Regions from separate parts of the Homo sapiens genome. Here all the other regions are linked to region 2. The links come from fine-mapping of genetic effects on gene expression. A gene starts in region 2. Each other region holds a variant in brackets. All regions are shown on one strand. Distances are from middle to middle. Region 1 overlaps MTMR3 (myotubularin related protein 3). Region 2 holds the start of MTMR3 (myotubularin related protein 3). Region 3 overlaps HORMAD2 (HORMA domain containing 2).

Region 1 (5,270 bases), 87 kb after region 2:
CATTTTCTTTTCTAGACCTGGAATTGGTTATATTTTCTTTCAGGTGCCCCATCTTCTTTTGAAGTGGGAATTAGTCTTTAGGGACCACAGTCTAGGGGCTTAGAATGCTCATTGCTGCTGGGTTGATACTGTAACTTTTTTGCAGCGTTTATTTTTATCTTATGAAGAGTTTGATTATATTGTTACTCTTCACCTCTGTTGTGTGTGTGTGTGTGTGTGTGTGTGTGTGTGTGTGTGTGCATGCGCGCGCGCGCGCATGTTTTTTAGAGACAAGGTCTTGCTCTGTCACTCAGGCTGGAGTGCAGTAGCATAAGCTCACTGCAGCCTTGAACTCCTGAGCTCAAGGGATCCTTCCACATCAGCCTCCCAAGTGGCTAGGACTACAGGTGTGCACAACCACCTAATTTTTTTTTTTTTTCAGTAGAGACAGTCTTGCTATGTTGCCCAGGCTGGCGTTGAACTCTGGGGCTCAAGCTGTCTTCCTGTCCTGGCCTCCCAAATTGCTAGGATTATAAGAGTGAGCCACTGCACATGGCTTCTGTATTTTTTTTTTTTTGAGCTATAAGTCATATCACATAAAATCCACCCTTTTAAAGTATACAATTCAGTGGTTTTTAGTATAGTCATAAAGCTGTAGAACCATTACCATTACCTAATTCCAAACATTTCATCACCCTGCAAAGGTACCTTGTACCCATTAGCAGTCACTCCCTATTCTTCCCTCAACCTGGCTCCTGGCAACCACTAATCTACTTTCTGTCTCTGTGGATTTACCTTTTCTGGACATCTCATACAAATGGAATCACACAATATATGGCCTTTTGTGCCCCAGGTTCTCTCATTTAGCATAATGTTTTCATCTATGTGTGTCATGTATCAGTATTTTATTCCATTTTATTGCTGGATAACTCCATTATATATACTGTGTGTGTGTGTGTGTGTGTGTGTGTGTATTTTTTGTTTGTTTATCCATTCACATTTTGTTTGTCCATTCATTGATTGATGCATATTTGGGTTGTTTGCACTTTTGGCCATCATGAATAATGCTGTTACGAAAATTTGTGTAGAAGTTTTTATGTGGACATACCTTGTCAGTTCTCTTAGGTATATACCCAGGAGTGGAACTGATGGGACATATGATGACTCTAAACTTTTTTGGGAACTGCCACACTTTTCCTCAGAGGTTGTACCACTTTACATTCCTGCCGGCAGTGTATGGGGGTTTCACCTTCACATTCCATCTACATCTGACATTAGTATCTTCCTCACTGGAGTTATATTTTGTTATTTAATAGTTTTGCAAAATGCATTAAATTCACTTCCATTTAAATTGTTTAAGATACAGCAGTTTGAATGTGTCAATGATGCTATCTTTAGAAATTTTATTCTAAAACACAAATATCTTTTGTGTAATATTAGGACAGTTTTTTAAAAGTAATTCAGTATGTTTCTTTTTTGAAAAGGTTCTTTATAACAGTATCCCGTTCTTTTAATAAGTTCATACCCTCAAATTTTCTCTGCCTTTGCCCTTCTCCTTTTTAATTCCAATAAGTGCCTTTTTGCACATCTTTACCTTCCTATCTAAAGTAGCATTTCTGTTACACCATCACCAAACTCTGCTTAATTTTCTTTGCAGCAGTTGCCTACTGCTTAACATTAGTTATCTGTTTCTTTGTTTCTAATGAGAAAGACCAACAATAAAATCAAGTTCCATGAATTTCTGTTCACAGTGGTGTCCCCAAAGTCTACAACAGTGCATGGAGTGTAGAAAATATTGAATAAATATTTATTGAAAAGAATGAATAAATGAGATAATTTTACATTAGTTTCAGTTCTTGAGCTAGGCCAAATCACAAAAGTTTGGCTTGGTTTGAAGAGTGGTTAAGAATGATGACTCCAACTTGGTCTGTTACTGAACCATAAGGTTCTTCCTCATCCTTCCAGCCTCTAAAAAATGGTGCACCCAAAACCCCTGTCCTTAGTCATCTTAGCCTCTCCATTTATACTTGCTCCTGCATTTGGCTTTAATGCCATTCACACACTGATGTCTCCCACATTTATGTTTATATCTCTAGGCTCCATCTTCTTGATCTCTAGTCTGGTTTAACTAGCACTTTACTTGGCATCTTTGTTTGGATATGTGATAGGTTTTCAAACATAATGTGTCTAAAATGGAAACTTTAATTTCTTGTTCCTTGTC[C/T]GTTGAGCTGTCTCTGCATGGCACGAGAAGAATAGATTTTTCTTACAATGCTCTTCATCAATAAATAGAAAATCCTTGCTTCCGGTTGCTGACACAAAAAGCTTGACTTCTCTTTTTCTATCCTATTTAATTAATCCACTCAAATCCTATGGGCAGTATTTTCAAAGTATATCCAGAATCAGTAACATCCCACCACTTCTATCTCTACTACCTTTTCATTGCTATATTGTCTCTTGCTGGGGTTAATGACGCTTTCTAATTGGTCTTCTTTTGCCCCTTACCCCCAGTAGCCTTGACTGTTCTCTACCCAACAGCCAAAATGATTCTTTTTTTTGTTTTTTTGGTTTTTTTTTGAGACTGAGTCTCACACTGTCACCTGGGCTGGATGTGCAATGGCGTGATCTCGGCTCACTGCAACCTCTGCCTCCCAGGTTCACGTTATTCTCCTGTCTTAGCCTCCCGAGTAGCTGGGACTACAGGCACACACCCCCATGCCCTGCTAATTTTTTGTATTTTTAGTAGAGATGGGGTTTCACTATGTTGGCCAGGCTGGTCTCGAACTCCTGACCTCGTGATCTGCCTGCCTTGGCCTCCCAGAATGCTGGGATTACAGGCGTGAGCCACCACACCCGGCCAAAATGATTCTTTAGAGTAAGTCATCTCCTACCATTCCTCTGCTCAAAATGCCTCAACACAATCTGGGCCTTGCTACTGCTTTTATGTTCTCTTGTTCCCTTGCTTACATTGCCCTTAAAAGAGTTTTATGCTGCACATTGAAGCCCAGACTCCCTGAAATATCCTGTGTTACAGAAGCTTAGCAAACTAGAAATGTTGGTTTTGCATGAGACTGTTCAAAGAAAAGAGCAACTTACTTACTCTTTGTATAAGCCTATTTTTGGGTTTCTAGTTGGATATTCTTTCCCCCTTTTTTGTTCTTATAAAACCAGGTAAAGGTATTAGTACAGATTGTAAGTTTTTAGAAGAGCATAGAATATTTGGGTAATAAGGCAAATTTATTTTTCCTATTTTGCTCGTAAGTCAGTTTGGTTTCCTCAGATGGGGGATCCATTTTGAATTTAGAGATAACCACAAAAACATCCTAAAATACTACAAGAATAATGATTTTGCATTTGCAGGTTGATGTTATTTATTTTTTTGAGACAGAGTCTTGCTCTGTTGCCCAGACTAGAGTGCAGTGGTGTAATCACAGCATACTACAGCCCCAACCTTCCAGGCTCAGTTGATCCTCCCACCTCATCCTCCTGAGTAACTGGGACTACAGGCATGTGCTGCCATGACCAGCTTTTTTTTTTTTTTTTTTTTTTTTTTTTGAGACAGAGTTTCACTCTGTTGCCCAGGCTGGTCTCAAACTTCTGAGCTCAGGCTATCTGCCTCAGCCTTCGAAAGTGCTGGGATTATAGGCATTAAGCCACCTTGCCTGGCCTGTAGGTTGATTTTAATTGTTGCTTTATTCATCCAAGTTTTATGATATTTTTTGTTTTACTACGAACATTAGGAATGTTAGCCTTTGATACTGTTTTTGCAGAAACAGGTTAAGACTAACAGGAGTTTTACAAAGGAACTGTCAAATTGGGATTTGACTAGTGGGAATTGGCTGGGTGATAATCAACTTTTTCTTGGCTGACTCTGATCAGCTTCTTAGGCCTGTGTATATACAATACCTTTGTGAGGATATGGCCGATTAGGGGAAAAACTATTGCCAATTTTGCCTCCCCTCCTCTTTTTTTTTTCTTCTTCCCCCTCTTCCCCCCCACCCCCAGACTTCACCATAAGGGAAAGAAGAGAGCCTTGTTGGACACTGAAGAAGGGACGGGGATTTCTCCTCCTAATCTGGGCCTCTTGTCATGGTAAGTACAAGGAAATAAGAGTAAAAAAAAAAACAAAAAACCCTGTGTCCTGACAATTAAGTGAACACTAATAAATTCATACTTACCCATTTTTGTTTTTGTAAGAAATTATTTCTTTTTCTTTCCCAGATCTCTTGTGTCTTTTCTTTTCTTGTTTACTTAGTAGTAATAGAGTACTCCAATATACAGAGCAGTTTCATTTCTGTTAACTTTAATCCTGTGAGCTAGATGTTGTCTCTTATTTTTCAGTCAGCAAGTAAATGGAATCAAGACTAAAACATACAGTTCTCGGACTCCAGGTTTTTAATTCCTTTTCTAGGAAGTAGCGTGTAGTGAAAACTGTGTGTGTGTGTTTGTGTGTAGACAAATTGTAAGATGGTAATCTGCATATTTACTTAAAAATTTTTTTAAATTGACAAATTACATATATATTGTGTACAGCATAATGTTTTGAAATACATATATACCTTGTGGAATGGCTAAATCAAGCTGATTAACATATGTATTACTTCACATAGTATATATGCTTTATGAATTTATAGAAGCAATTCCCTACCTTCCCTGTTTTGTCTCTTTAAGGCAGTATTTTGATCCCATAGTAGGTGGAGCAGCCCTGCACACCCCCTCCTGTATCTTTAACCAGAAAGAGAATTTAATGGACAATTTAATGACTTACGGGCCATTTCGGGCCCAGCTCAAGCAGAGAAGATGGAGCAACAAGCCAGCCACATTTTCATCAATCCTGAGGAAATGTAAACAGTGCTTCAAGGCTTAAAAAAGAAATGGTCCTCTGTAATATTGTCCTTCTTCTACCTTGTGATGTTTCCTAGATCCAAACTGTTTTATGCTGATGCACAGAGAAGGAATTGAAAAGGCTACATTAATTTCAAGCTTCATTAGGGACGTATGGAAAATGCTTTTCAAAATTAGAAAAAGTAAAACAAAAAAACTAGTTGTGCAGAAATGTCATATTAAAAGGAAGAGAAAGGTAACTGCCCTTATCTTAAAGGCATGCCAATTTTTTCTTAGTTTGTGGGCATTACAACTTTATGATTTATCTTATACCTAAACATTGATGAACTTTTCCTGTTATTTTCTTGATTATATTTTATTTTATTGGTTTTCCCACAGAGTTTTCAATGAATTGAAAAAGTGCTTGTCTAGTATTTCAGCCAGTGCTAATGAATAACAAATGATGGGCT
Region 2 (5,270 bases):
GAACTCAGGGGTTTGAGACCAGCCTGGGGAACACGGTGAGACACCACCCCCACCCCCCGTCTCTATGAGAAATACAAAAGTTAGCCAGGTGTGGTGGAGCACGCCTGTAGTCCCAGCTTCTCAAGAGGCTGAGGTGGGAGGATGGCTCGAGCCCTGGGAGGTAGAGGTTGCAGTGAGCAGAGATCCAGCCACTGCACTCCAGCCTGGACAACAGAGTGAGACCTTGTCTGAAAATAAAATAAAATATAAAAATAAAAAGAGGCCGGGCACGGTGGCTCATGCCTGTAATCCCAGCACTTTGGGAGGCCGAGACTGGTGGATCACCTGAGGTCGGGAGTTCGAGACCAGCCTGACCAACATGGAGAAACCCCGTCCCTACTAAAAATACAAAAAATTAGCCGGGTGTGGTGGCGTATGCCTGTAATCCCAGCTACTCGGGAGGCTGAGGCAGGAGAGTCGGTTGAACCCGGGAGGCAGAGGTTGCAGTGAGCCAAGTTCCCGCCATTACCCTCCAGCCTGGGCAACAAGAGTGAAACTCTGTCTCAAAAATAAAATAAAATAAAATAAAATAAAAAAACTTTAAATCATTCATCAATTTTAGTATTTACTGTTTCTTCTCCCATTCCATTAAGCCTATAGTCAGTCATAGAACAGAAAGGGAAAATCAGGGCAGCCACATATAAATACAGGTGCAAAGTTGAGGCAGGAGTGGACCCTCAAGGGCCAAGAAGAGGTCATTGCTGAGCTTCACATTTAGCCCTGGGCTTTCTGGAAGCCAGAGTGAAAAGAGAGACACAATCAGATGCGTAACAGTTATCAAAAAGCAGGAAGCACACCGGTTTTTCTGGTAGTAAAGCAAGGGCTTTCCAAGCTTTTAACTCTAAAGTAATTTATTTCGTTCTTTCTTTTTTCTCTCTCTGACACCCAGATTGGAGTGCAGTGGCACAATCAGGGCTCACTGCAACCTCTGCCTCCCAGGCTCAAGCCATTCTCCCACCTCAGCCTCTCAAATAGCTGGGACTACAGGCGTGCACCACCACGCCTGGCCAGTTTTTTGGTATTTTTTGTAGAGATGGGATTTCGCCATGTTGCCTAGGCTGGTCTCGAACTCCTGAGCTCAAGCAATCCACCTGCCTCGGCCTCCTAAAGTGCTGGGATTTCAGGCATGAGCCACTGCGCCCGGCCTAAAGTAATTTCTTACTTGAGATTTTATTTCAGGCTACTGTGTCCATGCACTGGGCAGTACAGCCTGGTGGGTAAGACAGCACAGTATTTTTTTTTTTTTTTTGTCTGCTGGGTTTGAATTTTGTTTTAATACACGCAATTTATTCTGTGCTTCACTTTCTTCATCTGTAATATGGAGATAATGGCATCTACCTATTAAAGTTGTGAAGATTCAATTAGATGAGTTGTATGAATAAATGTTAGCTGTTAGTTTAGTTTCGTTTTTTTGAGACGGAGTCTTGCTCTGTCGCCCAGGCTGGAGTGCGGTGGCGCAGTCTCAGCTCACTGCAACCTCCGCCTCCCGGGTTCAAGTTATTCTCCTGCCTCAGCCTCCCAAGTAGCTGGGATTACAGGCGCCCGCCACCATGCCCAGCTAACTTTTGTATTTTTAGTAGATCCGGGGTTTCACCAAGTTGGCCAGGCTGGTATCGAACACCTGAGTTCAGGTGATCCACTCACCTTGGCCTCCCAAAGTGCTGGGATTACAGGCGTGAGCCCCCGCGCCCAGCCAGCTGTTAGTTAATCAAGAAATTCGACTGCCTACTACTTAACCTGCACAGTTCTAGGTGCTGGGGAAACAGTGACGAACAAGACAAGATCCTTATCTTCAAGTAGCTTTTACATTTTAGTGGAGTAAAATGACAGTAAACATTGAAAATAAATTTCAGAAAGTGCTGTGGAAAAACTTTACAACAGACGCAGGAATAGATTTCATTTGACTAGTTCTCCCAGTTTCCAGAAAAGTCAAGGGTAGAATGTTAAAAGGCAACTCAGAGGAGGTGAATCTGTTAGGGCCTACGGTAATGCAATCCTGGTTTGTGGAATTCTGCAGGCTAGTGTGGGTAGGTTACAATTTTTTGGGGGAGTTGTTTTTTACTTTGTTTGAAAACTCACTTCTTCCCGCTGAGCTTTTGATTAGGAGCTGAAGTTGAATCAGTTTGAAATTGTATTCTGGACCGGATGCGGTGGTTCATGCCTGTAATCCCAGCGCTTTGGGAGGCCGAGGTGGGTGGATTGCTTCAGCCCAGGAGTTTGAGATCAGCCTGGACAAAATGGCAGAAACCTCATCTCTACAAAAAATACAAAATTTAGCCGGGCATGATGTTGTGAGTCTGTAGTCTCAGCTACTCAGGAGGCTGAGGTGTGAGGATCGCTTGAGCCCGGGAGGCAGAGGTTGCAGTGAGCCGAGATGCCACTGCACTCCAGCCTGGGCGACAGAGCCAGACTCTGTCTCAAAAAAAAAAAAAAAAAAAAAAAAAAGAAAAGAAAAGAAAAGAAATTGTATTCTGAATACAACTTCTAAAACACTATATTTACTTGCATTATATTAAACTGGTTTTATCCTGACCACAATTGCAGGTGGAAGATACCACTATTGTTCTATTTTTCTGGTAAGTAGAGTGAGCCATGTCTTGCCCAGGGTTACAGAGCTTGGAAAAGACGCCTCCTAAAAATCTGTAGGACCACCTTTGGTTTTCTTCCAGATTTTTTTTTGTCATCTCTTTTCCTCCACCCATTTCCCATCTGTCTAGCCATTCTTGCTCCGCTGGGCTTTTTCGCGAGCCTCTCCCCAGCTGCAGCCCCGCCCATCTCCTGGGGCGTGACCACCTGTCCAGGCCCCGCCCCCGTCCAACCGGCGGAGACCCGCCCCCTTTCCCGGACACCGGGCTCAGCGCCCGAGCGTGCGCGCGCGTCCTCGCTCGTCGCCCGGCTCGGCGTCGGGAGCGCGCTCTGTGTGGCCGCTGCCGCCATGTTGTTGTGGTTGTGAGAAGGCGGCGGCGGCGGCGGAGTAGCAGCCGGACGAGACGTCCCAGCGGCTCAGGCGCTGCCCAGCGCCGGCCCTGGCAGGGAGCCTGGTGGGGTGGCGGAGGGGGAGACTGTGCCGTGGAGGGCCTCGCCATGTCCTGCTGCCCGGTAAGAACCCCATCCCCGTCCTCCGTCTCCTCGGCGGGTGAGGAAGAGCTGGAGGAGGGGCCGGCCTCGGCCCCGGCCCTGGCCAGGCGGCTGTCACCCTCTGAGGAGGCAGCGCCCTGGGAGGGCTGGGGACTGCGTGCGGGGCCCGGGGAGGGGCGTCCCCGGCGGCTGTCGCCGCCAGGGGGAGGCGCTGGGTGTGGGAGTGGGAATGGGAGCTCGGCGGCCGAGCTCGGCCCGGACCCTAGATGCGGGGGAGGCGGGGTCCCGGGCTCGGGCTGCCTTCCCAGACCTGGCGGGGATGGGCCCGTGCGGCTCTGGGTGTGGGACGTACCCTCGGAGCGCCCGGAGTTATTCCCACGAACTCCCGGGAGGTGGGTGTGCGCCCTTCGCCCCCTGCCGGGTCTGTGGCGGTCCATCGTTGCCGGATACTGGAGGTCAGGGGCCATGGGAGCCCCGGGGCGAACGGTGCGGGCCTGGGCCTTGTGGAAAGGAGGAGTGACCGCCCGATCGTGCAGCAGGGCATCCCCCTGACCTGGTAGTACTTAGGTGGGTAGGATGATTGGGGGCGGTTGGCGTAACTGAGGGAACCCTGGTCAGACTGCTCCGCAAATGATTACAGTGTTATTTCTCCGGTAGTAATTTTGCTTGATGTATGGCATTTCCGGACCCATAAGATGATACTGTAGGTTGTATTTTGGACTGGAAAACTTATGTCAAAATTATGGGGTAGATTTTTTGGCCACATTAATAGACTCCCCTGGAATTTGATAATCTCACTTGTGAGTTTTGGACATGGACTGCTATTACATATTGATGTTCAAATGTCCTTTCCAGACCCAGGCCTAAATTCTTACTGTTGTAGTATCTTGATTCTGACATCTATTTTTCCACAACCCAAACAAACAAAACAAAACAAAACAAAACCCCAAAACCATATACTTTTCTAGTTAAGGTTCAACTTTCTCATATGTGAATGGTAATGCCATAAGAGGCCTGGGTTGAATTACAGGAGATTATTATTATTTTTTTCAATGTGAAATGTTTGTGATTTGTCCATGGAGAGGTGGTGGGGACCTTCCCCTTTCAGATTCAGGGCTGTTCAGTAGGACAGGAGACATTGATGGCATGCAGAAAGTCTTCCCTTTATAGGGCCTATGACTTGGGTAGGCTAGAAGAGCTTACAGAATGACACTTTTTTTTTTTTTTTTTTTTTTTTTTTTTAAGACAGAATCTCTCTCTCCCGCCCAGGCCGGAGTGCAGTAGTGCGATCTCTGCTCACTGCAACCTCCGCCTGCCAGGTTCTAGCAATCCTCCCACCTCAGCCTCCCAAGTAGCTGGGATTACAAGTGTGCGCCACCACGGCTGGCTAATTTTTGTATTTTTAGTAGAGACGGGGATTTCACCATGTTGGCCAGGCTGGCCTGGAACTCTTGACCTCAAGTGATCCGCTTGCGTTGGCCTTCGAAAGTGTTGGGATTATAGGCGTGAGCCACTGCCGCCAGCCAGAATGACACTGTTTTGAGTAAACCCAGTATAGTATGTGATATTAAATTAAATTTGGAGGATTCTAGAATTTTAGATTGGCTGCCTATGAATACCTCTTTTGGCTCCAATTACTCCCTCATTTTCAGGTGACTCAGAGAACTTCAAGTGACCAGCACAGTGGTACAGCCCCGCTTGTCGTTAATGACCAGCCATAAAAAACCCTGAGTTTCTCAGCTCATAGGCCAGGTTCTTCAGTGGTTGTCTAGTTTAAGGCTGGTCATTAGAAATATTATGGACTACCTAAATTCCTCGAACTCATGCAGGACCTGGTGAATTAAAATCTCTGAGGATAGAGCCTGGGGATCTGTCCTTACAAAGCTCCGTGAATGATTCTGGTCAGCAAGGCATGTGAACTTTTGCTTTAGGTTGGGTATTCCAAAGAAGTCCCATTAATTATGACTTCTCAGGGTGCTTTTGTTTATAGATCTTTAAGAATTTAAGAGGTGGAGAAGGGGAAGCATGAGAAACTTAAAGAGATGCAAATTGAGCATCTCTTAAAATATAATGGATTTATGTAGGGGAAACAGATTTGTTGCCAAAAGTTAATTTGCAAACAAGTTATTAGGAACACACTTGATAAAATTAGA
Region 3 (5,270 bases), 210 kb after region 2:
GACTGGAGAAGGAGAATACCAGTGACAGGAAATTGGTGGTTGCAGCAGTACAGGCAAAAGATGAGACTGGTTGATTTAAAGTAGAGATGACAACAACCTGGCTAAAGTGAGGAGTTGGACACATTTGAGATATATATATATATATGTATGTGCAGGGGGACAGGGTTTCACTCTTGTTGCCCAGGCTGGAATGCAATGGCGTGATCTTGGCTCACTGCAACCTCCATCTACTGGGTTCAAGCGATTCTCCTGCCTCAGCCTCCCAAGTAGCTGGGATTACAGGCATGTGCCACTACGCCCAGCTAATTTTGTATTTTTAGTAGAGATGGGGTTTCTCCATGTTGGTCAAGCATGTGCCACCACGCCCAGCTAATTTTGTATTTTCAGTAGAGATGGGGTTTCTCCATGTTGGTCAGGCTGGTCTTGAACTCCTGACCTCAGGTGATCCGCCCACCTCAGCCTCCCAAAGTCCTGGGATTACAGGCGTGAGCCACTGCGCCTGGCCTACATTTGAGAAATATTAAGGTGATGGAACATGGGAACGAGGAAGGGATTAAGGTTGAGTCACAGATTTTGTGCTTGAGCAACTAGGTATGTGATGATGTCATTCACTGAGCGAGGGAACAGAAGTAAGTTTTTGGGGAAAATAATTCACATTCAAATGTGTTGAGAACATCAAGGTGGAACAGTCTTATGATCAGTTAGAAGAACAAGTCAGCAACTTCTGAGAGAGACCTGGGTTGGGGATATACACATAAGAATCAATAAGATAGAAGTTATACTTGAAACAATGGGAGTGTATTTGTTCATCCAGGGAGTGTGTGGTAGAAGTAAAAAAGAAGAGCTCTGTTTTAGTCTGTTCTTGCATTGCTATAAAGAAATTTCTGAGACTGGGTAATTTATAAAGAAAAGAGGTTTAATTGGCTCACAGTTCCACAGGCTGTACAGAAAGCATGGTAGCATCTGCCTGACTTTTGAGGAGGCCTCAGGAAACTTACAATTATGGCAGAAGACAAAGGAGAAGCAGGCACATCTTACATGGCCAAAGCAGGAGAGAGAGAGAGAGGAAAAAAAAAAAGGTTCTACACACCTTTAAACAACCAGATCTTGCAATAACTCACTCACTTACTATTGCAAGAACTGCACTGAGGGTATAGTGCTAAACCATTCATGAGAAACTGCCCAGATGATCCAGTTATCTCCTACTGTGCCTGGCCATGCCAGCTGCTAGGTAACTGAGTCAGAATTTGAACTTAGGTTCCTTAACTCTAAAGGCTCTTTCTACTAGATTATACTGCTGGTTATTTCTCTCTCTCTCTCTATATATATACATATATATATACACACACATACATATATACATATACAGATCTGTATATGTGTATACACACGTACACACGTATACATATACACACACGTACACACGTGTACATATACACACACGTACACACGTGTACATATACACACACGTACACATGTGTACATATACACATATGTATACACGTATACCTATGTATACATATATACATATATACCTATGTATACATATATACATATATACACATATATACATATATACACACATATATACATATACACACATATATACATATATACACACATATATACATACATATATATACACATATATACATATATGTATAAAATTTAATTTTACTTTTATAAATGTCAATTCCTAAGGAATTTACCAAATGCTAATATTAACCTGCTTGAATCCTTTCTCAATAGCAAGTGTCCTGAATGCCTCAGAGTTTTCAATGGTAATATTAATTTAATCTAGGCCATCCATACATTGCAAAAATATGGATGTAGTAATGCCTTGTGTTCTAATTGGCTGATGCTATTTTCAGAGCTTGATTCCCTAGAAATGACATCAGAATGTCTATGATCATAGAGAAATTTTTAAAACCCTACTAATTTAGAAAACTATTTAGTTTTATTAAGTAAGTTTTAATAAGTAAGTTTTATTAGTTTTATTAATTTTATTAATTAAAAAAGTTAATTTAAAAATTAATTTAAAAATTAAAAAGTAAGTTTTATTAAGTTTTATTAGTTTTATTAATATTAGTATTCTATACTAATATAGAAAACTATTCTAGAAAATCATGATTTCTCTTATTTATTGTGTCTAAGACTAATAACTACCCCAGTAGTGGGTAGTGTATTATGGTTTAATGGGCTGGGACTAGATCTTAAACTCTTAGAGCTACTTTGTTTCCCATTTTATTTTTTGAAATTTAAGGGGGACAACTGATGTATTAGATATGAAGGTTATAGTCTCAAATCAAGTAAAGATAGCTTGGAATCTTTAAGGGTTAAAGAACTATTGGTGGTTTTCAGTCTCATATATAAAATATTGTAAAAGAGTGTCCCCTAGTGCCCCTCTGAAGAAATAATTTGAAAGAAATTTAATATTACCACCTATTTATAATCTCTATCACCACCTTGTGGCAGTGTTCGCAAATAATTCTGCCCTCTTGGGAAAAATCTTCAAGAATCTTGCATTAATGGATACACAAAAACCGGTCACAGGCTATCCTTGGTGATCCAGAATGGAATATCTTTAAAGAAGTTATTTTACAAGTATTTTGGTCAGAACTTCATAAAACCTTGAAAAGAAGCCCCAGTTGAAATTAAATTAAGACTTTGTAAAGAAAAGGGAAAATTTGCTGCT[G/T]CTTCTTTTTTTTTTTTTTTGAGATGGAGTCTGGCTCTGTCGGCCAGGCTGGAGTGCAGTGGCGCAATCTTGGCTCACTGCAAGCTCCACCTCCCGGGTTCACGCCGTTCTCCTGCCTCAGCCTCCTGAGTAGCTGGGACTATAGGCGCCTGCCACTATGCCTGTCTAATTTTTGTATTTTTAGTAGAGATGGGATTTCACCATGTTGGCCAGGATGGTCTTGATCTCCTGACCTCGTGATCCACCCGCCTTGGCCTCCCAAAGTCCTGGGATTACAGGCATGAGCCACCATGCCCGGCTGCTTCTTTTTTATATCAACAAAACAATAAGGGTGAAAACTAGATGTATTTTAAATATTAACTTTTTTATTGTGGTAAACTGTAATATGAAACTCAACACCTCAGCTTTTCTAAGTGTACAACTCAGTGACACTAAGCACATTTGCAATGTTGTGCAACCATTATCACTATCCATTTCTAAAACCTTCTCATCATCGTGAACAGAAACTCTATACCTATTAAACTCTTTATTCCTTCTACCCCACCAGCACCTGGTAACCTCTATTCTACTTTCTGTCTCTGTGAATTTGCCTACTGTAGGTACCTCATATAAGTGGGATCATATAATATTTGTCCTTTTATGTCTGGCTTTTCACTTAGCATAATGTTTTCAAGATTTATTCACATTGTTGCATGTATCAGAACTTCATTCCTTTTTAAGATTGAATAGGGGTCGGGTGTGGTGGCTCATGCCTATAATCCCAGCACACTGGGAGGATGAGGCGGGTGGATTGCCTGAACCTAGGAATTCAAGACCAGCCTGGGCAACATGACAAAACCCCATCTCCACAAAAAATACAAAAATTAGCGAGGTGTGGTGGCAAATGCTTGTAGTCCCAGCTACTCGAGAGGCTGAGGTGGGAGAATCATTTAAGCCTGGGAGCGGGAGGTTGCAGTGAGCCGAGATCACGCCATTGCACTCTACTGTGGGTGACAGAAGGAGACCCCGTCTCAAAAACAAAACAAAACAAACAAATAAAACAATTGAGTAATATTCCATTGTAAATACCACATTTTGTTTATCCATTCATCTTTTAATAGACATTCGAACTGTTTCCATCTTTTGGCTAATATGAATTATGTGGCTATGAGCATTGGTGTACAAGTATCTGTTTGAGTCCCTGGTTTCAATTCTTTTGAATATATACCTAGAGATGGAAATGCTAGATAATATGGTAATTCTGTTTAACTTTTTGAGGAATGCCATTGCTATTTTCCACAATGGCTGCACCATTTTCATTCCCACCAGCAATGCATAAGGGTTTTAATTTCTCCACATCCTTACCAACTTACTATTTTCCATTTTTGAATAATCATTTATAAAATTTTTAATTGACACACAGTAATTGTACATATTTATGGGGTACAGAGTGATATTTTGATACATGTATACAATATGTAATGGTCAAGTCAAAGCATATTCATCAATTCAAACATTTATCATTCTTTGTGTTGAACTATTTTAAAATATACAATAAATCATTGTTAACTGTGGTCACTCTACAGTGCTATAGAACAATATAATTTATTCTCCTATCTAGCTGTAATTTTATATCCATTAACTAACTTCTCCCTATCCAACCTCCTCCCTGCTGCCCTTCCTAGCTTTTAATAACTACTTCTGAGAGCTCATCTGTTTTAGCTCCCAGATGAGTGAGAACACATGGTATTTATCTTTCTGTACTTGACTTACTTCACTTAAAATTATATCATCTAGGTTAATCTCTGTTGCTGTGAATGACAGATTTCATGCTTTTTTAAATGGCTGAATAATATTCCATTGTGTATATATATCCTTTCCTTCCTTTCTTTCTTTTTCTCTTTCTCTCTCTCTCTCTTTCTTTCTCTCTTTCTTTCTTTTTTTTTTTTTTTTTTGACAGAGTCTTGCTCTGTTGCCCAGGCTGGAGTGCAGTGGTGCAATCATGGCTCACTGCACTGCAGCCTTGAACTCCTGGGCTCAAGTAGTCCACCTTAGCTTCCCAAGTAGCTGGGACTATAGGTGCGTGCCACCACACCCAGCTAATTTTCGTATTTTTTGTACAGATAGGGTTTCACCATGTTGCCTAGGCTGGTCTTGAACTCCTGGGCTCAAGCAACCTGCCTGCCTCAACCTCCCAAAGTGCTGGGATTACAGACATGAGCTGCCACCCCGGCCTATATTTTATTCATGCATTCATCTGTTGATGGACACTTAGGTTGATTCCATATCTTGGCTATTGTGAATAGTGCTGCAATAAACATGGAGGTATAGATATCTCTTCCATATACTGATTTCTTTTCTTTTGGATAAATACCCAATAGTAGGATTGCTGGATTATATGGTTTCTATTTTAAGATTTTTGAGGACCTTCCATACTGTTTTCCATAATGCTTGTACTAATTTACATTCTTACCAACAGTGTATAAGAATTTTCTTTTCTTTGCATCCTTGCCAGCATTCGTTATTTTTTGTTATTTTATTTTATTTTATTTCATTTCATTTTTTGAGATGGAGTCTTGCTCTGTTGCCCAGGCTG

The links.
Region 1: its variant is fine-mapped to the expression of MTMR3 in whole blood (INTERVAL, PIP 0.92).
Region 3: its variant is fine-mapped to the expression of MTMR3 in monocytes (TOPMed, PIP above 0.99).

What each region holds. Positions count from the first base shown.
Region 1 is chr22:29,966,995-29,972,264 of GRCh38, forward strand. MTMR3 (myotubularin related protein 3) reads left to right here. Exons shown (of 20, transcript NM_021090.4): 3 at 3,982-4,068. The coding sequence starts at 4,066. Among named protein-coding and RNA genes, the nearest start is that of MIR6818, 37 kb to the right of the region's middle. The variant C/T (reference allele first, on the strand shown) is at 2,201.
Region 2 is chr22:29,880,222-29,885,491 of GRCh38, forward strand. It overlaps MTMR3 (myotubularin related protein 3), which reads left to right and starts at 2,953. Exons shown (of 20, transcript NM_021090.4): 1 at 2,953-3,138. RefSeq lists an enhancer at 2,759-3,053 and silencers at 2,766-2,935, 2,996-3,495.
Region 3 is chr22:30,086,656-30,091,925 of GRCh38, forward strand. The region is part of intron 1 of HORMAD2 (HORMA domain containing 2); the gene reads left to right. Among named protein-coding and RNA genes, the nearest start is that of HORMAD2, 8.8 kb to the left of the region's middle. The variant G/T (reference allele first, on the strand shown) is at 2,696.